6 separate regions of the Homo sapiens genome follow, and all the other regions are linked to region 5. Evidence: fine-mapped expression QTL. A gene starts in region 5. Each other region holds a variant in brackets. All regions are shown on one strand. Distances are between the middles of the regions. Region 1 overlaps TMEM51 (transmembrane protein 51). Region 2 overlaps TMEM51 (transmembrane protein 51). Region 3 has its middle 16 kb from the start of FHAD1. Region 4 has its middle 2.3 kb from the start of FHAD1. Region 5 holds the start of TMEM51 (transmembrane protein 51). Region 6 overlaps TMEM51 (transmembrane protein 51).

Region 1 (4,088 bases), 30 kb after region 5:
TGAACTACATCCAGGGACTCTTAAGCGCTCAAATTAAACCGTCTTTTGGATTCTCTCATTTTTAAAAACTCAAAGCCTCGTTCCCAGGCTTCGGTTCCTAACCATCTTTCTTTACTCCCTTGCAAGAGATTCGGGCTGATGGTTACCGTCATGTCTAAGTAAACGATGAGCTTCCCACCCCACAGCCCTGGCTCTCAGGTCATGGCAGCAGGTTCTCGACCAGACGGGGCTCAAGGTGAACAAACAACCTTTCTGTTTATTTATTTTGTATGCTTGCTTTAGTGTTTTGCCTGTGTTGTGGGAACCACAGCATGGGTTTCTCAAGCTGCTCTGTTTTCTTTGGGTTGAAAACAAAAATAAAAGGTGAACCATCAAACCGTGACGTCTGGCTGCCTGCATGAAACTCCACGAGGGCTGGTTTATAAATTTAAAATGTGTGACTGTCCGGGAGTGGTGTCTCACGCCTGTTAATCCCAGCACTTTGGGAGGCCAAAGTGGGTGGATTATCTGAGGCCAGGAGTTCAAGACCAGCCTGACCCATATGGCAAAACCTTGTCTCTACTAAAAATACAAAAATTAGCTGGGCGTGGTGGTGTGCACCTGTAATCCCAGCTACTCGGGAGGCTGAGGCAGGAGAATCGCTTGAACCCAGGAGGTGGAGGTTGCAGTTAGCCGAGATTGCGCCATTGCACTCCAACCTGGGCAACAAAAGCAAAACTCCATCTCAAATAAATAAATAAATAAATAAATAAATAAATAAATAAATAAATAACTGCACTAGGCTGAAAGCAGAATGGCAGTACATAATAAGAGCATCCCTTCTGGAGTCAAATCCCTGCTCTCTTCTTGGCTGCATGACCTTGAGAATGTGTCACTCTTCCTCTGTGAGCCTCAGTCTCCTCATCTGTAAAATGGACATAGCCATGGCGCCTGCCCAATCGGACTGTCGTAAGATCAAGCAGGCAAGCTTTTGGCACAGCGTCAGCAAGCCTCAGCTTATGTGATCATCAGTATACCAGGACCACTCCGAGTTGAGCTGTTCAAGCTCTGGGTCTCTCGCCAACTGGCAGTGTGACCTTGAGCAAATAATTCACCTCTCTGAGCTTCAGGTTCTTCATTTGCAAAATTGAGGCCCCATGTTCTATCTAAATGGATTGTCCTGCATATTAAATTCTGGAAATAAGTACCTTAGGCAGTTGGGAGCAAGAAAGAGGACAGGCAAGAAGGGCCATAGAAGGAAAGTACTGGATCCCCAAAGCTAAAAGATTATTTACCTGGTGGCTGTGAGGAGGGAAGGCCAGCCTGACAGAGGACACAGAAATATCCACTGTTTCTTCTTTTGGGGGGCACAGAATCTCACTCTGTCACCCAGGCTGGAGTGCAGTGGCGTGATCTCATCCCACTGCAACCTCTGCCTCCTGGGCTCAACTGATTCTCCTACCACAGCCTCCATAGTAACTGGGATTGCAGGCACCTGCCACCACACCCAGCTAATTTTTGTGTTTTTAGTAGAGATGGAGTTTCACCATGTTGGCCAGGCTGGTCTCAAACTCCTGACCTCAAGTGATCCTCCCGCCTCAACCTTCCAAAGTACTAGGATAACAGATGTGAGCCACCACGCCCAGCCAATGGCTTCTAAATTTGAGTAGCCCCAGCATCTTCCCTGTTGGACTTGTTTTATGTCTGCTGGTAGAATCAACACTCTTTGGGAACATATGGATCTATGGACTTTGCTTAAACAGATTCTGAATCCAAGATGTCATTTACCAAAAAAGCACACAAGGGATAAATATCCCCCAACAGCAGAATTCTTTATTTTATAGAAGCATTCACTAGGAAATTCCTTTCAATGTTATGCATCCGTCATGTGCGTAATATGCTACTTGATTTACAAATAAGGCAGTATCGTGCAGAGGTAAAAGGTACAGTGATGGGAGCAAGATCACTCCCCACCTAGCCCCAGGTACCCCGATTCTGCCGATTACCAGCTGCAAAACTTTATGTCCCTTTGCCTCCATTTCCTCATTTGTAAAAGGGAGATTATCGTACATGGTATCTATCTCGCCTATAGGTTGCATGAAGAATAAACAAGATAACTATAGATTGCATGAAGATAATTCTTGTAAAGAAAACTTACTACCACATAGTAAAGGCACAATATATGTAGCTAGTATTCCTTCCAATACTATTTTCTGAGTGCCTTCTGTGTGTTTGGTGCCATCTGCCCTGTGTCTGCCTTCATAGAGCTTACACCAGGGATGTGGGCTATGG[A/G]CATAGAAACAGGCAAGGCAACAAATAACATAAATAAACAAGATGATTACATGTTGTGGTCATAGCTATGTCCAAAACCAGCAAGATGCTGAGACAGAGAACTGCATGGACAACTACTTGCAAATGTCCGGTTTGGAAAGCCTCACTGTGGAGGTCACATTTAAGTGACAGATGAGAAGAAGCCAGCGAGAAGGACAGTGGGGCCGCAGCCGCTCATTTCAAACATGAAGGTGCACGTGCCTCCTGCAAGATCCAACTCAGCAGGTCCGGGGTGGCCCTGAGTGTCTGCATTTCTTTCTTTCCTTCTTTCCTTTCCTTCTTCTTTCCTTCCTTCCTTCCGCCTTTCTTTTTTTTGACGGAGTCTCACTTTGTCACCAGGCTGGAGTGCAGTGGCACGATCTCAGTTCACTGCAACTCTGCCTCCCAGGTTCAAGTGATTCTCCTGCACAGCCTCCCGAGTCAGGCGTGCGCCACCACACCAGGATAATATTTGTATTTTTAGTAGAGACGGGGTTTCACCATGTTGGCCAGGATGATCTTGATCTCTTGACCTCGTGATCCGCCCACCTCGGCCTCCCAAAATTCTGGGATTACAGGTGTGAACCACCACGCCTGGCCTTGCCTTTCTCACCAGCTCTCAGGGCTGTTGACACTGCAGGACCACACTGTGAGTGGCCAGGGACTAGCAGAGGACAGGGGGCAGAGGGTGGATCCAGGTCCAGACGACAGAGTACCTTGAAGGCAAGTGGGGAGTTTGGATTTTATTCTCAGGATAGTAGGAAGCCAGGCAGAGGAGTGACATGACTGAAGGATGCTTCTAGAAGCTCATTTTGGCTGCTGCGTAAAGACTTGCTAGGGCCAGGGCAGCTGCAGAGAGACCAGGTTGGAAACTGATATCGTTGTCCAGGTGACAGTGGCTTAGACAAAGGTGGTAGTGATGGCAGAAGCAGGAAGTAGGTGGATTTGAAACCTTTGGACAGGTAAAATCAACCACACTTGCTGAGGTGTTAAATAAAGCCATCCATCATCATATAAGATATGTGCTTATCTTAATTTTTTAAAACTCAATAGTATAGAGTATAGAGCTCTCAAGCAGGGGTGATCTTGCCCTCGCGTGGGACATTTGGCAATGTCTAGAGACATTTTTGGTTGCCCCCAGCTGGGGAGATGCTATTGGTATCTAGTAGGTAGAGACCAGAGATGCTGTTATACAACCGACATTGCACAGCACAGCACTCCCAACAAAGAATTATCTGCCAGTATGTCAGTGGAGCCAGGGGAAAGAAACCTTGCATAGAAGTACAGGAAGGCAGAAATGTCCTGCCTGCCCCACCCCCATCTGACCCCCACACCCCAAAGATAACTACTGTTCCCAGTGTGCTTGATGGTCCAGACTTTGTTCTGTGCGTATACGCAGATTTCCCATAAGCCACCTCACCGGTGAAGTAATGCTTGGGAAATGCTCAAAACTTAGGAGCCCTGAGCCCACCATAGGAAAAGACTGTTCATTTTGTCAAATCTGTTCTATTCCTACCCCATGGGGAAGGTTACTGCCACATTGCCCAAAACTGTATTCATTCTATCAGTTGTGATATTTTTTCTTTTTCTCCAAAGAACTTTCCAAAAATTGCTATCCTTGTGACCTAGGCAGCCTTCTCTAACTGGGACTAACTCATGAAACCTGAGAATTTCAGTGCAGGAAGAAATGTTGGGATAATATAGTCCTACCCAAGTTCTTACTGTACAGGTGGGAAAACTGAGGCCCAATACTTCTTGGAAGTGGGGAAATCCCCTTATAATAAGTAGTCTCTTCTTCA
Region 2 (4,088 bases), 57 kb after region 5:
TCATGCCTGCAATCCCAGCACTTTGGTAAGGCCGAAGCAGGAGGATCGCTTGAGGCCAGGAGTTCAAGACCAGCCTGGGCAACACAGCAAGATTCCATCTCTACAAAAAGATTAAAAATTAAAACATTAGCTGGGTGTGATGGTGTGCACCTGTAATCCCAGGTACTTGGGAGGCTGAGGCGGGAGGATCACTTGAGCCCAGGAGTTCGAGGCTGCAGTGAGCTATGGGTGACAAAGAAATATGCTGTCTCTAAAATAATTTTTTAAAAAATTTTAAATACAGAAATAAATAAATAAGTAGCCAGACAAAAGAGACAGGTGGAAGGGTGTTTTCAAGCAGTAGGTATAGCAAGTTCCAAGGCCCTGTGGTAGGAAGTAGTTGGTGCCAATGAGGAGCAGAAAGGAAACCACTGAGGGCTGGTGAGCAGGAGATATGAGCTGTGACAGCAAGACAGGAGCCTCGTCCAGGCTGGTGGGGCTTGAGGGTCATGGCCAAGGAGTTTGGATTTTATGCTAAAAGTAATAAAAACACATTGATGGGCTTTTGGACATTCTTGTTACAAACTATTTCAGTCATTCAAAAGAGTATATATAAGATATATGTGAATTGTAATGAATAGTATAATAAAACGCTCATGTACCCTTCACTGTTCGCCTCCCCAGTACTATTCTTCACTCTTCATTTCTCCAGGAGGTAGTGTGTGTGTGTGTTTGTTTGTTTCTATGTTTGTTGAGACAGGGTCTCATTCTGTCACCCAGGCTATAGTGCAGTGGCGTGCTCAAGGCTCACTACAGGCTTTACCTCCTAGGCTCAAGCAGATCCTCCCACCTCAACCTCCCAAGTAGCTGGGACTACAGGTGTGAGCCACACACTGGGCTCATTATTATTATTATTATTATTATTATTACTATTATTATTATTGTAGAGACATGGTCTCACTATAGTGCCCAGGCTAGTCTCGAACTCCTGAGCTCAAGCGATCCTCCCACCTTGGCCTCCCAAAGTGCTGGCATTACAGGTGTGAGCTACTGTGCCTGGCCAGAAGGTAGCCTGAATTTGTCCTGAATTTTAGTTTATAGTCTTTGCGTTTCTTCCTAATATTACAAAAATAGAGCAACATATTGTTTGGTTTTGAACTTCATTTAAGTGGATTTCTGCAGTGTGTATTCTTCTGCAGTTTGCTTTTCTGTTCAACATTATGTTTGTCAGGATCATCCTCACTGGTGCACACAGCTGCAGTTTACTCACCTTCACTGCTGCGTACGTAATACTCCACAGAGTGACACGTTGTGGTTTATCCTTTCTCCTGGGACCAATTTCTAATGTTGAACCAAACCCTGCATTCTTGGGATAAACCCAACTTGATTATGATGTGTTATCTTTTTAAAAAATATGGTTGGGCTGGGTGCTCCCTTCTGTAATCCCAGCACTTTGGGAGGCCAAGGCAAGAGGATCTCCTGAGGTCAGGAGTTCGGACCAGCATGGCCAACATGGTGAAACCCCGTCTCTACTAAAAATACAAAAATTAGCCAGGTGTGGGGGTGTGCGCCTGTAGTCCCAGCTACTTGGGAAGCTAAGGCAGGAGAATTGTATGAACCCAGGAGGCGGAGGTTGCAGTGAGCTGAGATCACACCACTGCATTCCAGCCTGGGCAAAAAAGTAAGACTCAGGAAGGAAGGAAGGAAGGGAGGAAGGGAGGGAGACGGGGAGGGAAGGAGGGAAGCATGGATTCCATTTGCCGATTTTTGTTTAGGCTGGTGGGTCAGACTGGCCTGTCATTTTCCTCTCCTGCCTTGTTCTTTTCTAGTTTTGGTGTCAAGGTATATACATTCCTTATAAGATGACCTGAGAGTATTTCCTCTGATATTCTCTGGAGCACATGTCTAAGATGGATAATACCATGAAAGAGTTTGATAAATGTTAGCTACCATGTTGTCATCCTTCTGCAACTCATATTTTTTTGTACAGAATTCTGGCTTCTTCTGGTACCACTTGTCTTGCATAGATACCTACCCTAACCCTTGCCCTTTTCCCCCTAAAAAACAAAGAAAACACATGGCTCCCCAACATGTAACTCCAATTGCAATGCTCACAGCTTGCTTAGAAAGCTGCATCTCTGTGGTTTTTTTATAGGTGGATCTTTAACTCAAGACTAGCATGAAGAGTTGCCTTCTGGCCTGCCCTGAGTCTCCTCAAAT[A/G]ACAACAGGTAGATACCTCTCTAACTGGTTAATAATTTTTCTTTAAAAACTCAGATATAGAATCATTCATACCTCCCTTAGGGCCTCCTCAGACATGAGCAGTGATGGGGCCAACCCCAGGGTCTAGAGGTTGAGTTTGGCCAAGCCAGGACCCCAGACTGCCCACCAAGCCTACTGTGTTTTAGGGACATATTGGAAGCCGTGTGGTCCAAATCCTCTAAGCATAAAATTAGCTTCTTTCCATATTTTTAAAAGGAAAAGAACACCATGCTAAATATAGCTCGGGTGCTGTCCAGGGTCAACAAGCCAAGAACAGGACAAACAGCTGACCAGATGCCCCGCTGGGAGCTGGGTTTCTACAGACCCCATAGACCCATCAAGATCACAGTCCCCAAAGAGAGGGCTGAACTTGAAGAACAAATCTACGCCACCGTTGCACACATAACCCTGCCATGAACCCAAAAAACCAAAACTATTTTATGAAAGCAACACATAGATATTTCTGTTTTCTAATTCTTATTCTCCCAGTAAGAAAAAGAAAATGAAAATCATGGTGAATCCCATCACACACAGAAAATAACTATAAATATCATAATATATAATCCGAGTGTTGTGAAACTTAGTATGATACATTCAACAGTGTTTCTCAACCTTTTCCGCCACCTTGCCCTCCCTGAGAAGTCTTTTTAGACATTCTTTTTGGAATACTTGAAAATTTAATGCCAAGGATGCCCTGTGTATCTATTTATATTCTGTGGCCCTGTGGAGGGCCACAAACCATTATAATATCCAAGATTTTTTTCACCCTGTCCCCAAGAAACAATTTTTGCTCCTTGTGGGTGATCTTACCCCATTGAGAATACAAGCTCTAATTAACATTAAATAACAATTTTTTTTGTCTGTTTAAGAACTTACTGTTGTGCTGGTCACATACTGTTCTTGGTGCTTTATGTATATTATTTATTTATCATAACTCCCCTATGAGGTAGGTACTAGAGAGTTTTTGTCTCCCTTTTACAGCTGTGGAGACTGAAGCACAGAGAGGTTAAGTAACTTGCCCGAGGTCACACAGCTGTGAAGGAATAGAGTGAGGATGTGAGCCCAGGAAGCCTGGGTCCCAAGCTCACTCTTAACCACTCAGCTATGCTACCTTGCAGCAATACAATCAGATTGTGAAAATTCAAAAGAGAGAAATAGAAAGTAAAGGGTACACTTTCCGAGTTTCCTTCGTCCCCAGAAGCAATCATGGTACAAGTCTGAAAGGTGACCCCCCCCCCCCCCCCGGGATTTTTACATACGTGTGTATATATAAAAATACACTGTCTCTTTCATTTCAATGTAAGTACAATCATCCAGGCTTTTTCCCATATATTCATCTGTGTATGGAGAATTTTTTAAAAATTAGAATCACGCTGAACACACTGTTGTTTCAATCTTGTTGTTTGATTTAAAAATACATTAGCTGCTTTGAGACCATAATTTCCTTAAGTGCGTGAACCATAATTTATTACCCTGATCTGGATTATTGGCTATTGAAGTAATTTCTAGCTTCTCACCACTATAAAGCTGTGATGATATCTCTGTACATAATTCTTAGAAGTTGGAATTATAGAGCCAAAGGGTATAAACATTTTTGAAACTTTTGTTCTATAAATGCCAAAACTTGCCATCTAAAAAAATGCCATGAAATTGCCATCCCAATACCTTTCCCCACACTGAGTATTATCACCTGTTTTTAATCATTGACAGTTTATCAGACAAAAAGAATGTATTAATCCCGACATTTTAATCTCTGCCCATGATTCACATCTGGAGCCTGTCTTTCTCTCGTGCAGCATAAGGCAAAGCTGGAATGGAGAACGAATGAGGGCAGGCAGTGAGGGGGTTAA
Region 3 (4,088 bases), 78 kb after region 5:
GGCATATGAGGCCAATAATTTTATTGACTTTAAAAGGTAATCCTAAGCTTATTTAAAACATTCATTGAATCCATGAAAATGGCAAGGAGGAGTCGGGCGTGGTGGCTCACACCCGTAATCCCAGCACTTTGGGAGGTGAGCAGATCACTTGAGGTCAGGAGTTCGAGACCAGCCTGGCCAACATGATGAAACCTCGTCTCTACTAAAACCACAAAAATTAGCTGGGTGTGGTAGTGCACGCCTGTAATCCCAACTACTTGGGAGACTGAGGCAGGAGAATCGCTTGAACCCGGGAGGTGGAGTTTGCAGAGAACGGAGAACCACTGCACTCCAGCCTCAGTAGCACAGTGAGACCCTGTCTCAAAAAAAAAAAAAAAAAAAAAAATTGGCAAGGAGAAATCAGTACAAACATTCTAGCTGCTATTTGGAATAAACCTTGATTTTGATGTTTATTTTTCCAGTTAAAAAAGTTTTAATGCCTAAAATTTTTCCAATGGCTGAAAGTAGTAAAAATCATCCACTCATCTTCCCTTAGGCCAATAATAGAAAGGTCTCACGGGGCAATATAGGAACCAGGAATAAGACCAGAGGGGGAGGAGGAGGAGAAGAACACCATTGACTAAGTCCTACGCATATGTTGAAGGCAGACTATCCCTTGCTCCTACTTCCTGGGTAGTAATTTCATAGACGTGTACATTATCATACACCCCTCCAGTGAATAAACACTGAATTAAATGGAATATGATTTTATCTCTGTGTATTGCTTCAACTCTGGGTTTCTGAACCTTGGCACTATTGACATTTTGGGCTGGGTAACCCTGACATGGGGCAAGGCGTGGCTAGGTGGAAGGCTGCTCTGTTCCTTACAGGAAGTTTACAGCATCCCTAGCCTCCACCACTAGATGCCAGAAGCACTGCCCAGGTGTGGCAATCAAAAATGTCCCGAAGCATTGTCAAAAGTCTCCTGGGGGCCTGGGTCAGGGCGCAAAATGCCCGTGGTTAAAAACTGTACAAACTGAAGCTTTAGGTCTACTGGCTACGGGGGGTTGCGGGGAGAATGTAGTATGGAGAAGTGGAAAAAAAGATTGTCATCTGAGCGGCAATTTCCATGTTTGAAAAACGAAATATTGATTATTGCGTTGGGCCACAAGACTGGGAGAATCAAATGAGTTAAATTATATGCTACAAAATGCTATAAAAAGTAGAATTTTAAAGAGAAATGCTTCTAGAGTTCATCTTGCTCAGCTTCCTTGTACAGGAAAGGAAAACCGAGTAAAAAGATGTTTCCCTAAAGACCACAGTAATGCTTCACAAACACAAATGATTATAATGAAATATTAAGTTGTTTCCACCCAGAAAAACAAACAACACAAGAACCAACCCAAATGCCATGATGCTGGCACCATGTGAGCATCAAACCAAATAGTGACTTCAATGGATTGAAACACATCTACATAATTCCAAATCAAATATTCCTGATGATACTTTTAAAAACTCATTGGTCACTTTGGGAAGTTGCTTGTTACTGTGAATATTGATACATAAAGGGAAAGAATCCATCATTTATTCTGCCTTTCCTGAACAAACTGTGTTTTACGGTAAACATATAATTGGCCAGGCGCAGTGACTCACGCCTGTAATCTCAACCCTTTGATAGGCCTAGGCTGGAGGATGCTTGAGCTCAGGAGTTTGAGATCAGTCTGGGCAACATGGAGAAACCGCGTCTCTACAACAAGTTTAAAAATTAGCTGAGTGTAGTGGTGTGTGCCTGTGGTCCCAGCTACTTGGGAGGCTGAGATGGAGGGATCACTTGAGCTCAGGAGGTTGAGGCTGCAGTGAGCCATGATAACACCACTACACTCCAGCCTGGGCAACAGAGTGAGACCCTGTCTCAAAAATAATAATAATAATAATAGTTGATGAAGAAAATGCATTGACAGTTGATGAAGAAGAATTCTAGCAATAATTAACAAAGGAATATCAGAAAGATCACTATTCTGCAACCTCAAAGGAAAGAATGGAGCTAGGGAATGATCCTCAAAGAATGCTAAAACTATTAGGTAAAAAGTTGATGAGGC[C/T]GGGCACAGTGGCTCACACCAGCAATCCCAACACTTCGGGAGGACGAGGCAGGAGGATCATTTGAGGTCAGGGGTTCAAGATCAGTCTTGCCAACATGGTGAAACCCCATCTCTACTAAAAATAAAAAAATTAGCCAGGCATAGTGGCACTTGCCTATAGTCCCAGCTACTCAGGAGACTGAGGCAGGAGAATTGCCCGAACCTGGAAGGTGGAGGTTGCAGTGAGCCGAGATCTTGCTACCGCACTCCAGCCTGGGTGACAGAGGGAGACTCCATCTCAAAAAAAGAAAAAAAAAATGTTGATAAGCCCAAGTGTCCACCGATGAATGAATGGACAAACAAAATATAGTCTATGCATACAATGAAATATTATTCAGCCTTAAAACAGATGGAAATTCTGACACATGCTACAACACGATGAACCTTGAGGACATTCTGCAGAGTGAAATAAGCTAGTCACAAACACACATACTGTGTGATGCCACTTATACGAAGTATCTAGAATAGCCAAACTCATAGAAACAGAAAGTACAATGATATTTCTCAGGGCCTGGGAGGAAGGGGAATTACAGAGCTAGTGTTTGGTGGGTACAGAGTTTCAGTTTTGCAAGATGAAAAAGCTCTGGAGGTTGGTTGCACAATGATGTAAATGTACTTAACACTACTGAACTGTACGCTAAAAATGATTCACATGGTAAATTGTATGTTATGTGTATTTTACCACAATTAAAAATAAAAACTGTCTGGGCCTGGTGGTTCATGCCTGTCATCCCAGCAATTTCGCAGGCCAAGGCAGGAGGATCACTTGAAGTCAGGAGTTCAAGACCAGCCCGGCCAACACGGTGAAACCCTGTCTCTACTAAAAGTAAAAAAATTAGCCAGGCATGGTGGTGTGCACCTGTAGTCCCAGCTACTTGGGAGGCTGAGGTGGGAGGATCACTTGAACCCAGGAGGCGGAGGTTGCAGTGAGGCGAGATCTTGCCACTGTACTCCAGCCTGGACATCAGAGCAAAATTCTATCTCAAAAAAAAATTAAACATAAAAATTAAAAGTCACTGGAGAAAAATTTGATGAGAACTTTATGATGGACAGATCAGCCTGTCAGCACTGATCCTACCTAGCCATCTTGGCATCATTAAAAAGGGCCAACCAAGATGTTACATGTCCACGATGTGACACAGGAGGAATCAAACAGCCTGCCTATGAAGTAGTCTTGACAACAAGAAGACCAGATCTCATCAGGCCTCGAGATTTCACTCTTAGTTTGCAGGAAACATGGGGAAGAGAGGAATAAGTTAATTGAAACTATGAAGAAGCAATCAGTCAAATCTATGGTGTGAATATTCTATAGGACGAAACACCCAGTTTCTCCAGCCGATCAGTGGTATGAAAAAGGTAGGGGATGCTGTTATGGAATAAAAAATATTTCAAAGACATAACAACCAAACACAACGTGTGGATGGCGTCTAGATCCCGATGTCAACAAATCATCAATACAACGACATCTCTCAGAGAATCAAGAAAGTGTGAGCATGGATGGATGTTAGACGATATTCAGGAACTGTTACTAGTATTGCTAGTGTGATAATGTCATGGGGAAAATAATGTCATAAAGGTGGGGAAGCTCCTTTTAGTCAGGAAGTATTTATGTATGAAATGACACAATGTGTTTTAAGTTAATCCAAAAGGAAGTTAATCAAAAAGGAAGAAAAAAGCGATAAAACAAGATTGGAGAAGTATCGAAGCTGGATTATGGGTACATGGGGTTAATGGTACTCTTTTCCCTACTTTTGTGTTGTATGTTTCAAAAAACTCCATTATAAACCCCAATTTTTTTCCATAGAGAAGCAATATGTTTATATTAAAAACTATAACTCTCTTCTATAAGACATTTCTAATGCAGACGTGAAGATTAATTTGATTTCTAGCTACTTCTAGCCCCCAAACTACCAGCATTTTTTTTAGTTTCAATTTTTATTTTAGACACAGTGAGTACATGTGCAGATTTGT
Region 4 (4,088 bases), 91 kb after region 5:
ACCAGCCACTGATCCATTGTTTCATACGTCTTAACCCATTTAATCCTTTCAATAAAATGGATTGTTGTATACCCATTTTACAGGTGAGGGAAGTGAGGCACAAACAAAATACAACAAAAACCAGGCCCAGGACAGGTGGGGCCAGCACACTTTGCAGTTTTTGAACGGATGGTACAGACAGACCCCCCCACAGCAAAGCGCAAGGAACCAAGGGGAACTGACTTTGAAAAATGATTTGCAAGATAACTGAATGCTCCAAACCAGCATGAAAGAGTCGACATGAGACGAAGCTCCATATTTTCTCATTTTCTGCCACGGGAAAAGGCAAGGATGGCTGCAGAAAGCCTCAGTTGCCAGTTATTCTCTCCATGGTTTGAAATTATTTTCATGAGTCTCTGTGTGTAGGTCTGTATATAAAAATCTGTACTTTCTAAGCTTATATGGTCAGGTTACTAATGGGCCGTGGAGTCTCTAGTGGGCCCTCTGCTCTCTGTCATCCGTCACCCTGCGCAACAGCTTGGCTATTTCCTGCACTCTTTACTCTCTTGTTCTTGCTCTTTCTCTGGCTCTCTTTCATGCCATAGAGGCTGAGGAAGCCTCCACACCTCTCCTGGCCGCGGCTGGGGCCTGAAGCCAGCATTCATTTCATGTTGGAATGCAAGGGCAGCAGGAGAAACATCACACAGTTCTCTGAGGATGGAGCACAGGGTTAGGCTCTCCCCAGGCAAGAACAGCCCAGAGAAGGTGGCTGGGAAGGAATGAGATTTTACGGGGGCAGAAGTTCTGCAGGAACGAAGCCTAGTGCCCAATGTCAGCAGGTAATGTGGGTGGCAGGCCTAAGCTGCCTCCTCTGGGCTTATGCCCCCTTCACTCCCTGCCCTGGGCACTGCCTGAACCTTTGGACAGACAAGAGTGCAGGCTGCTCAGAAGTGAGAGAAAGCAGTTGTGAGTAAGTGGCATCTTGTGATTGTGACAGCTGTCACCTGTAGTTCCCCAGGGGAAATACCTTCCTTGTCACATTCATCTCGATTCAAATCCTGCCAGATTTTCTAGCTGTGTGACTTTAGGCAGATTTCTCCCTGTCTCTGAGCCTTATTTCCTACAATATGGGCTTCGTCGTCACCAAGAGTTCAATAAAAGGTTAACTGTAGGCACTGCCAAGAAGCACAAGTAATCTAGAAACATCTATTTTTTTTTTTCAGGGACAGTATTTTTAATGCCGCATCACTGTTTAATTGCAATGTACAACTCTCTTACTCAGCCCAGGAAATTATATCATAAAACCCTAAGTTATTGGGTATTTGATTTTCTGTTTTTGAAATGAAAATGGATGATACGGAATTGGGTTTCAAGAACTTTGCACACCCTTGAGATAACAGTGGCATCCTGAGGGACAGAGGATCCAATTAAGATTTGGCAACTTCGGCTCCACTGATTCTGAGTGTCAGCTTTGCTCTCAGTTTAGGATTTTTTGTTTTTCATTGAGATATCAGCTAACAGCAACAGATGATCTCTCAAAGCCTGGTGAGGGGCATGGGCTGTTCCAGCTCATGGCCAGCCTGGGTTTCACTGGGGTCTGTCTGATAGCAAGTTTGTGTCCTGGGTTCATGTTAATGACAAGAGTTTGACCAAAGACAAGCATGGAGGGGTGGTGGTAGGGATGGAGGTGGTGTTCAGGCCTGGGCAGGGGACTAGAGAAGCCGACATCCTGGGGCGAGGACAGGTCAGCCCAGCAGTCCTCAGAGGACAGGAGGCCGGGCTTCAGAAGGGTGGCAGGGGCTTCCCCCTGCATATTTATTCATTCAGACATTGTTCTAGGGACTGGTGGCACAGCAGCAAACAAAACATGAAAAAAGAAATTCCTGCTTTCATGGAGTTTAGATTCTACCAGGGGTCAGGGAGGGAGACACAATAAATAACATAAATAAATAAAGAAATAGTATGTGAGTTGATGATAAGTGATGTATTAGTCCATTTGTGTTGCTATCAAGTAATACCTGAGGCTGTGTCATTTATCCAGAAAAGAGGTTTATTTGGCTCACAGTTCTGCAGGTTGTACAAGAAGCATGGTGCCAGCATCTGCCTCTGGTGAGGGTCTCAGGCTGCTTCCACTCCTGGCAGAAAGTAGCGCCTGCATGTGCAGAGATCACATGATGAGAGAGGAAG[T/C]GAGAGTGAGCGAGGGGGAGGTGCCAGGCTCTTTCTAACAATCAGCTCTTTAGGAAACTGATAGAGTGAGAACTCATGCACCCTACAGGAACAGCACCAAGCCATCCATGAGGGATTCGCCCGCATGATCCAAGCACCTCCCGCCAGGCCCCACCTCCAACACTGAGGAGCAAATTTCAACATGAGATTTGGAGGGGTCAAATATTCTAACTATAGCAAGTGGCAAAAAGAAGGGAAGAGGGATAGAGTGTTGAGGTTTTTATTTTGTTTGGATGTGCTTTTGTTGTTCTTATTTTTATTTGCTTTTGTTGTTCTTATTTTTATTTGCTTTTGCTGTTCTTATTGTTTTTATTTGCTCTTTTTTGTTGTTTATTAGATTTCATGGTGGTTGTTTCATTGTTTCAAAAAACCAATTTTAGAAAAGATGATATGTGAGTAAAAAGCTAAAGTAAAGAAGGCAAAGGAGACTCTTGAGGGGAAGTGCATTCCAGGCAGAGGAATGGGCAAGAGCAAAGGCTCTGAGGCAGAAACGTGTGGGAAGCTGAGCTTGACCCTCTCTGTTCCTGTGAAGCCATCACTTGGGTCCCAGCCCTTGTGGTCCCTCCTAACATTTTACGCCTAGAATCTTTCTGGTTGTAGGAAACTGATCCAGGCAGAACCTTCCAGACTGAGGGCCTGGAAGAGATTTGTAGGGACAGGCTCCGGGAGAGGTCTCTGCAGTTCAGCTGCATAAATCAGGGTTTTGTCAAGCTTGTTGCAAATGCACATTCCTGGATTATGTCCCAGGCCTGCTAAATCAGAATCTCTGGGGTCTGTGCCCAGAAGTCCGCATTTCTAAAAGCCTCCAGGCACGTTTGAGCATCTTCACTGTATATTCCACCACAAATCGATGTCCATGATTTCTCTCTCAGATCCTCTTCCTATTGACTAGGTGTATTAGTCTGTTCTCACACTGCTATAAAGTAATTCCTTGAGACTGAATAATTTACAAAGAAAAGAAGTTTAATTGACTCACAGTTCTGCACTGCTAGGGAGGCCTCAGGAAACTTACAGTTATGGCGGAAGGCCAAGGGGAAGCAAGGAAGCTAGCATGTTGTAACATGGTGTAGCAGGAGAGAGAGAGAGCAAAGGGGGAAGTGCCACACTTTTAAACCATCAGATCTCATGAGAACTCACTCGCTATCATGAGAAAAGCAAGCGGGAAGTCTGCCCCCATGATTCAATCACCTCCCACCAGGCCCCTCTTCCAACACGTGGGGAGTGCAATTCGAGATGAAATTTGGGTGGGGACACACAGCCAAACCGTATCACTAGGGTAGAATGTGCCATAGTTCATCTCTCTTAGAAAAACGTTTAGAGTTTTTCTTGAGGTGTCTGGTCAGCCATTTCCTGCCAGTGAAAGGAATCACTCTCCAGGTAGAGTCAGCAGGAGATAGGATTTCCTGCTGGAGATAGTGGCGGGAGATAGGATTTGCACATCTGCTCAACACACTCCATCCCGCGAGTCCTGTGCCGGCTGACAAGCGGTTTCTTAAGGACAGTAACTGTTCCAGGTGTATTCTGGGATCAGCGTGTGACACTCATAGGACTCAAAAGATGTTTGCAGAGATAGAGAAAGGGCAAAAGAATGAATAAATGTCACTCTTAACAGGGAGGAGCAGAGGCAGCAGGATTGTGAGTTTGGAAATATTTTTTCCCCAGCACATGGAAGAAATCCTCATTCTTTCAAAATTTTTCATTCCACCCCATCCCTTTCCCAATCCCCACCCCACTCCCAGAGATCCCCTCTTCTTACTCTTTCTATTTTCTGGCCTGTAACGGAAAGGACTAGAGATTTGGGTAGGGCAGGGGGCATACTAACCTCCAAGGGTCTCATGAGTTCAGCTCCATCAATCTCCTACCTCTCCCTATCGCCCCCGACC
Region 5 (4,088 bases):
CTGTTCTGACATGATCACCCCCCGCCCCCACCCCAGGCCTCTCCAAAGTCCATCTTGCAGAGTCAAATGAAAACCAGATTCCTGGTCTTATCTGAGAGCTACGTGACTGTTTCCTGTCACTCCTTTGGAGCCTGGGAAGGTCCCCACATGCATTGTCTAAACTTTGGGATGAATACGCACAGCTCTTAAATGGGAGCATATTATTATAGGTACCTGCCTACACAAAGGGTCCTCCCTATTCACTAAAATCATGGGTTATTATTTAGGGCTTTCATTCATCCAACAAATGTTTATTCCGCATTTGCAGGTGGCCAGGCAAGGTGAACATTCTCTCAGGGTGGAGAGTATGTGCAGACAGGAGGAATTATGCTATGGGAGGGAGAGCAGAAGCTCTGGAGTGGATCATCTTGGGTCTAGATCCTGATACTTCCCAGCTGTGTTTTCACTGGGCAAAATGACCTCACCTCCTTAAGCCTCAGCCTTCTCTTCTATAAAGTGGGCATAACAAATAACCGCCTCCTAGGTTATGAGGATTAAATGAGATGGTTCAGGGGATGTGGGTGGTAACCCCGCCCCTGGTTCATAGCAAGGATGTGAGGAATAGCAGTTGCTGTCATAGACATGGAGACTGTTTCCCCAAATGCCTTCCCACCCCCAAATCATAAGGCAGACCCAAACTTGCCTTTTTGTGGACGCCAAGGTTCTGTCGAGCTGTTAGGGTGCAAGTTAAGAAGCCAGAATGGCGGGCTGAGGGGAGAAATGCCCGCATGTTACAACTCTGCAGGTGTACACACGTGGACACCATATGTACCCATGAATTCCGCCTTTGGAAGTGAACTTGATTGCAGCCTATTTTCGTCTGGAGGCGGTGGATTCCCGGTAGGAGGCGCCTTCAGTCCTCGGCTCGATCCTGTGACGCCAGCCAGCTGCCTATCGGCTTCTCAGTGTTTGAACTTCAAAGGGCTGGACGCTCACCCAAGAAGGGGACCCCGGCCTGACCTCTCTCGGAATTCAAAAAAATCTAAGGCTCAGAGAGGGAATGGGAGCTGGCTCTTCCCTCTGTGTTTAGCATCCACGTTTTTTGGCGGTCTGGCTGAAACCAGCCCACCCTAGTTCGGGCGCCAGAGCAACGCAGTTCCGAGGGCAGATCTCCAAGGGGCGGAGGCAGAGCCGCGGGTGAGAGGCTTCCGCGCCGACTTCGGGTTTGCACTCCCCGGAGCCAGAACTCCGTGGCGGCTCCGGGCCTCCGTGGATCCGAGCAGAGACTGGCTGCCCGCCTGCCACTCGCAGGCTGGGAAAACGCCAGCCGGTGCCTCGCCGGGAAAGTTCTCGGCAAAGCTGGGGATGAGCCCTCAGCAGGGCAGGCTCCCGGTGCAGCGCGCCCCCATCCATTGCCCGCGCGCAAGAACCCGGAATGGGCCCCACCTGGGCCGGGACTCGGGCGTGCGATCCCGAGGGCGCCCTGGGGACCACGCATCGGGTGGGGACCCTGGCCGAGGGCGTGAGCTGACTCAGTTTTTAAAAACTCGCTTCCTCCTTCCCTACTTGTGCCGGTCACTCACCTCGCTGGGAACCAGCCCAGGGCAGAAGGGGGAGAGGGAGGCGGTGGCCTCCCCAGGAAGGAGGAGAGGTGAGTATCCCGCCAGGTAAAGGCGGGGCGGCTGGCGGAGCTGTGCCTCGGCGTCTGCGCCTGGTGTGGGAGGAAAGCGGGTCTCCCAGCTCCACTTAAACCCCTAAAACCTGGGACTTCTAGCTTGAGACATTCCCCGACCACCACCCGTCACACACACGCGCGTGCGCGCACACACGCATGCACACCGATTCTCTGGGCCCTAGGGAGGAGGGGGGATCAGGGCTCTATTTTCTCCCGACCCCCTCTTATCCAACTCGGCTGGCAAGGGTTGGGGAGAACTTAGGCCCAGCCCCCGGCACACGCTCAGCGCGCTCCAGCGGCATACGCTGGGGAGTGGGTGCCCGCCTCGCTCAGCTGCGATCCCTCGCCTCGGGCCCGGGGGTGGTGCCGAGGGCCGGGAGGGAGGGTCGGCCGGTGGGCGGTGCTTCTCCGGGCTGGAGGCCGCTCCTGGCCGGCACCGCCCTCCGCCTCCCGCGGTCCCTCCCTCCCGCACGCCGGCGCTCCCAGGCCGCGCTTCCTGCGTCCCCAACCCGGTCCCTGAGAGGGCAGTGCGCCCTCTCCACCACTGCGTTCCCTCGGCTAAGAATCCCCCGAACCCCAGCCCCGCGATCGCGGCGCCCACCGAGGAGGCCGCCCGGGTGGGGCGCGGGGGTCGCGAAGCCCGCAGTCCCGGACCGCCCAGCCGAGACGGAGCCGGACCCGCCGCCTCCCGGGTGAGTCTCAGCCGCCGCGCCTTGCGCCCGCTGCTTCCCGCGGCGCGCTGTCGGTTCCCCACAGGGCCGTGTAAGGGGGCCGAGGCCCGTTTGGGTCTCCTGTCCGTCCGTCTGTCCGCCGAGCGCTTCCCGCCTGGGGTCGACCACCGGGAGGACTCCGCACCCCGCACCCTCTGCGGCCGCGCCCCGCCGGCGCGGGACGCTCCCGCCTCCCGGGCACCGCGCCTGGCCAGCTGGCCTCGGCTGGGGAAGGCAGCTGGCCTTGGGGGCCCCCTGTTGGCGGGAACAGGTGCTATCCGCCCGGCGGGCTTCGAACCCTTGGCTTCGCCAGAAGCGCTTTCAGCGCGTGGTTAGGAGCAGAACTTCCCAGTAGGTCCCAGGAAACCACCTTGGCGCTTTGCTCGCGCATCCCTTACTGTATGGAAGTCGGGGCCTTTTAGGGATTTAGATTCGTGTGTGTGTATGTGTGTGTGTCGCTCTACAAGCAAACACGGGGGTAAAGAATCGGGCATGAGCAAAGTGGATTGAAACTCGAGTCCTTCCCTGAGCGCGTCGGTTTCTTCATCTGTGAAACTGACATGACAACGTCCCAGGGTGCGGCGGGGCATTCATGCCCAGCACCCAGCAAGCACTCAGCGGTAAGTTACGTTACCGGGCCTAGGGGAGAGCAGAGTACAAATCAGATCTCAAATCAGCGCACAAACGGGAGGCGCTTGGCCCGGCGCGCCTGGTCTGCATTACAGGATAATGGTCTCTTTCCCAACCAGCGGTGGGGGCGAGAGACCTGGCCCCTCCCCCACGGTTTCCCCAGGGAGCAGCCCGTGGGGTGTCCTGCGCAGCGCTCCGAGGTGCCTGTGACGGTGCATGGGACTGCGGGTCCTTCCCAACAGCAGGGGAGGTCTGGCTGCTGGGAACCCGGGCGCTGCCGGAGTGGGGTGGGCGGGGACGAGGTGGGCGGGGCAGGGACCCGAACCGGGAGGTAAGTCAGCGGGTGGAAGGCTTTCCCCTCTAGGACCGGCCGGCTTCTGGCTTTCCTTTTGAATGGGTTACCCGGAGAACAGCTTGTCTAGGGAACTGTTGGCCCTGGGACCGTGAACAGCTTTCACACCCCGGAAACCTGTCACAAGAGGATCCTGACCTATTGGGACAGAGCCCCTGCCCCTCCAAATATCTCACTCCACCAATTGAGAGGTACCCCCAGACTGGGAGAAAAGGCCAAAGAAAGAGAGAGGAGGCTAGTGGTGAACCTGCTCCTCACGGCTTCGGAGCTGACAGCTCTCTGATGGGGTGTCTGGGGCCTGCCCCAGTGACCCAGAGCCCAGAAGCCTCAGGGAGCCCCCAGCCTAGTGAGGGAGTCAGGGATACTCATGAAAAGTGTTGCAGAATTGGCGATACAGTCAGGCCACACCACTTGCTGGCTGTGTGACCTGACCTCTCTGAGCCTCAGCTTCTTCATCTGTAAAATGGGATGATGATCTCCAAGGGCGAGGTGGGGTATTTATGCCTAGCACATGAAGTATTCTATAGTAAGTTATGTCACAGGGCTTAGACGAGAACAGAAGAAAGGAAATAACTCAGGAGGTCCTGCTAAGAAAAGAGTATTAGAATATTCATCAGGGAACTGGAGTCCCCCCAGGGAACAGGGGAGGAAGGGTGTCTGGGCAGATCGAACAGCACAGGCAAAGGCACAGCGACAGGAGAGTGCCTGGGGTGTGCTGGGCTGGGGAAGGTGCTCAGGCAGT
Region 6 (4,088 bases), 62 kb after region 5:
TGCTGGGTGACTTCATGTGGCCTGCATTCATTTCATCCAACATTGACTCTGCAAACTTTTTTTTTTCGAGACAGAGTCTTGCTCTGTCACCCAGGCTGGAGTGCAGTGGCACAATCTCGGCTCACTGCAACCTCCATCTCCCAGGTTCAAGCAATTCTCCTGCCTCAGCCTCCCAAATAGTTGGGATTACTGGCACGTGCCACAGCACCCAGCCTTTTTTTTTTTTTTTTTTGTATTTTTAGTAGAGACGGGGTTTTACCATGTTGGCCAGGATGGTCTTGATCTCTTGACCTCGTGATCCATCCACCTCGGCCTCCCCAAGTGCTGGGATTACAGGCATGAACTCTGCAAACATTTTTTGAGTCCCTGCTGTGTGCCAGGCTTAGAGATGATGACAATGTGGTCATGGGAAGAGAGAGACTCACCACGGTGGTTGCTGGAGGATTTGGGGAGCACATGAAAGGGGCATCTGAGCTATGGGTGACCAGAGAAATGTTCTGGAGGGTGGTTGGGGGTGGGTAGTGCAAAGAAAGGCAGGCTGAGACATGCAGTAGGAGAGGCAGGAGCCAGGCTAAGGCCACCATGAGCAGCATCATTCTAAGAAGCTGGATTTTCTCCTGCAGGAAGTAGGGAGCCATTGAGGGTGGGGAACAGATGACAGTAGGCTGTTTGGCCTGGTCATACCATTGGCTGAGGCCCTGTCCCCCAGGTGAGTCTGTTACAACCATCGATTGTGGACCATTCATCCCATCGCTCACTCTCCCAGCAGCCTCCAGCAAGAGCTACGATTTTACTGCACTTCATTAAATTCCACACAATGTTTTAATGACCTGAGCTCCGACCTTTCTGGCCTCCAGCAGGGAAAGGTCTGGCTTTTCCTTTTCAGGGAGTAGCGGGCTGGGCAGACCGGCCTCCCTTCTCGCAGCCTCGCACAAGGAGCCTGAGCACGTAAGACATCTGGAATGCATCAAAGGCGAGGCCCAGCCAGAGCCGGCGTGCTCGGTGCTGCTGCCTAACTCCTTCAAGAGCAGAGCCGCCACATTCACAAAGCGTCTGGAATCGGAACTGATCGTCCTCTCTGCTCTTTCTGCTTTCCTTCCAGGCCCTTCCACCGCAGCCATCCGCACGGGAGGCCTCGCGATTGCTCGGAACCATCCCGCAGGAGTTCAGCTGATATTTTCTAGTGTGGGGCGAGAGATTTTGTGGAGCGCATTTAAGGGGTTTTTGTTGTGACTGCTGCCTTGTATACATTTATTTTCTTTCTTGGAACTGGGCCTCGCCCTCCTCCCACTGACATGATGGCCCAGTCCAAGGCCAATGGCTCGCACTATGCGCTGACCGCCATCGGCCTGGGGATGCTGGTCCTTGGGGTGATCATGGCCATGTGGAACCTGGTACCCGGCTTCAGCGCGGCCGAGAAGCCAACAGCTCAGGGCAGCAACAAGACCGAGGTGGGTGGCGGCATCCTCAAGAGCAAGACCTTCTCTGTGGCCTACGTGCTGGTCGGGGCCGGGGTGATGCTGCTGCTGCTTTCTATCTGCCTGAGTATCAGGGATAAGAGGAAGCAGCGGCAGGGCGAGGACCTGGCCCATGTCCAGCACCCGACAGGCGCTGGGCCTCACGCCCAGGAGGAAGACAGGTGAGGCCTGACTGTCCCCTTCCCTCCCCGGATCGGGGATGGGCACGCACGCATGCACACACATGTTCACACCTTTCCGTGGTGAAAAGACTGTCATCTACAGGCTTTATTGTCCCATGTTCGCCCATGA[C/T]GCCTCTGTCAAAACGGTTTATCATTTTACAAATAACTTTAGACTTTTCTACCAGAGCTTCCCAAATAGCATGGTACAAATGGATTACAGGTAAACCAAGATTTTTTAAAAATTTTATTACAATAGATTTTTACACCATGGAATACTATTCAGCCATAAAAAGGAACAAAATACTGTCTTTTGGGCCAGGTGCAGTGGCTCACTCCTGTAATTCCAGAACTTTGGGAGGCCGAGGCAGGTGGATCACTTGAGGTCAGGAGTTTGAGACCAGCCTGGCCAACATGGTGAAACCCTGTCTCTACTAAGAATACAAAAATTAGCTGGGCATGGTGGCACATGCCTGTAGTCCCAGCTACTGGGGAGGCTGAGGCATGAGAATCGCTTGAACCCAGGGGAGTGGAGATTGCAGTGAGTGAGCTGAGATACCGCCACTGCACTCCAGCCTGGGTGACAGAGTGAGACTCTGTCTCAAAAAAAAAAATACAAAAACAAAAAACTGTCTTTTGCAGCAACTTGGATGGAGCTGGAGGCCATTACTCTTAAGTGAACCAGCATTTTGACCCGCCCAGGGTCACTGAACAGGGCCTGGGGTGGCCAGCATATTTGCTTGTCCCTTCACCCCAGCATGCTGTGTGTATGCTTTAATTTGAAATGGCTGGGAAGCAATTTTCCATTTGAGCAAAAATGCCACCAACAAATTTAAAAGATAAGTGATACATTGGGGAAGATATGATAATAGTTGATATCCCTATTATAAAAAGAGCTCTTAGAAATGAATATGTAAGATGAATATACCAATAGGAAACAGACAAAGATTATGAATATTCCATAGATGTTCAACCAATAGATGTTCAACTTCATTAGTCATGAAATGCAAGCAAAAAGATGTCTTTTCTTTTTTTTGCCTATCATATTGATCAAGATAGACAGCCCCTACTGTTGGAGAGTTGTAGGGAAGATGGATTGCTGATGAAATGTTGACTGATAGAAACTTTCTTAAGAGTTTCACCATAAGGGGCAGTACTGAAGATGTGCGTATTGATCCTATTTATAAGAGTTTATCCCTGGGAGACAGTCCCACAGGTGCAAAGGAGTTTGTACCAGTATATTTATCAGATCATTGTTTAGGATAACAAAAACTTAGAAACAACCTAAAAAACCACCTACTGAGTTAAATGACGTACCTATTCAATGGAGTTCTATGCAGCAACTGTTGATCTATATTTGTTAATGTGGGACCATATCCACAACAATGAGAAAAGGGGGATATAATACAGCATCTTTGGTCAGGTTATGGTCCCATCAAATGTTGTGGCTGTGGGATTGGAGAGGGGTAGGAAAGGTATACACCAGAATGTTACAGTGGTTTGTCTCCAGGTAGAAGGATTCGGGATGTTTTTCTTTTCTTCATTAGATGTTTCTGTGTTGTTTGAATTTTCTACAAGCATTTCTTATCTTTATAGTGGGAAGGGAATTGTTCTTAATGTAATATGGATTAAAGGGAACCCTTGGTACACTAATGGTGGGAATGTAAATTAGTGCAACCACTGTGGAGAAGTTTAGAGTTTCTTCAAAAAACTCAAAATTGAGCTGCCAAATGATTCAGCAATGCCACTTGTGGGTACACACCAGAAGAAAAAAAAATCTCATTATATTGAAGGGATTTCTGCCCTCCAATGTTACCAGTTACCACCCCTTTCCATGGTAATGACCTGGAAGTTACCATCCCTTTCCTAGAATGTTCTAAATAGCTTGCCCTTCAATTTACATTAACCCACTTCTTACTTTTGCACATAATTGAAAGTGGGTGTAAGTGGGTACAAATACAATTTCCAAATTAAACTCATTTTCTGATAGCAAAGAATAATATATGCTGTATTGGTCAGGGTTCTCCAGAGACACAGAACCAGGGGGATATATATTTTTTTAAATGGAGATTTATTATGAGGAATTAGTTCCTGGGATCATGGAAGCCAAAAAGTCCCACAATTTGCCATCTGTAAGCTGCAGACCCAGGAAAGCAAGGGGTATAATTCATTCTGAGTTTGAAGGCCTGATTGAGAACGAGGAGAGGTGAGGGTATAGATCCTAGTCTGAGAGCAGGAGAAGATGAAATGAGATGTCCCAGCTCAAGCAGTGAGGCAGGGAGAAATGAGTCAAATTCCTGCTTGCTCTGACTTTGGGTCTATCTAGGGCCTCCATGGGTTGGATGGTGCCACCACACTGAGGAGGGGAATCTGCCTTACAGAGCCCACCGAGCTGAATGCTAGTATCTTCCAGAAACACCCTCACTCTCACAGTGTTTAATATGGGCAACCA

Evidence for each region. PIP is the estimated chance that this variant, and not a neighbour inherited with it, causes the effect.
Region 1: its variant is fine-mapped to the expression of TMEM51 in whole blood (INTERVAL, PIP 0.96).
Region 2: its variant is fine-mapped to the expression of TMEM51 in whole blood (TOPMed, PIP above 0.99).
Region 3: its variant is fine-mapped to the expression of TMEM51 in whole blood (INTERVAL, PIP above 0.99).
Region 4: its variant is fine-mapped to the expression of TMEM51 in whole blood (INTERVAL, PIP above 0.99). The same link has a PIP of 0.9 or more in blood mononuclear cells.
Region 6: its variant is fine-mapped to the expression of TMEM51 in whole blood (INTERVAL, PIP above 0.99).

The regions. Positions count from the first base shown.
Region 1 is chr1:15,181,436-15,185,523 of GRCh38, forward strand. The region is part of intron 1 of TMEM51 (transmembrane protein 51); the gene reads left to right. Among named protein-coding and RNA genes, the nearest start is that of TMEM51-AS2, 12 kb to the left of the region's middle. The variant A/G (reference allele first, on the strand shown) is at 2,272.
Region 2 is chr1:15,208,356-15,212,443 of GRCh38, forward strand. TMEM51 (transmembrane protein 51) reads left to right here. Exons shown (of 4, transcript NM_001136218.2): 2 at 2,135-2,207. Among named protein-coding and RNA genes, the nearest start is that of FHAD1, 37 kb to the right of the region's middle. The variant A/G (reference allele first, on the strand shown) is at 2,200.
Region 3 is chr1:15,229,193-15,233,280 of GRCh38, forward strand. No RefSeq gene overlaps it. Among named protein-coding and RNA genes, the nearest start is that of FHAD1, 16 kb to the right of the region's middle. The variant C/T (reference allele first, on the strand shown) is at 2,079.
Region 4 is chr1:15,242,864-15,246,951 of GRCh38, forward strand. It overlaps a transcript of FHAD1 not described here. Among named protein-coding and RNA genes, the nearest start is that of FHAD1, 2.3 kb to the right of the region's middle. The variant T/C (reference allele first, on the strand shown) is at 2,167.
Region 5 is chr1:15,151,609-15,155,696 of GRCh38, forward strand. TMEM51 (transmembrane protein 51) reads left to right here and starts at 2,139. Exons shown (of 4, transcript NM_001136218.2): 1 at 2,139-2,346. TMEM51-AS1 (TMEM51 antisense RNA 1) reads right to left here and starts at 856. Exons shown (of 5, transcript NR_027136.1): 1 at 683-856. RefSeq lists silencers at 1,962-2,231, 2,292-2,341, 2,432-2,611 and enhancers at 2,321-2,982, 2,762-2,851, 2,983-3,644.
Region 6 is chr1:15,213,793-15,217,880 of GRCh38, forward strand. It overlaps TMEM51 (transmembrane protein 51), which reads left to right. Exons shown (of 4, transcript NM_001136218.2): 3 at 1,103-1,639. The coding sequence starts at 1,296. Among named protein-coding and RNA genes, the nearest start is that of FHAD1, 31 kb to the right of the region's middle. The variant C/T (reference allele first, on the strand shown) is at 1,770.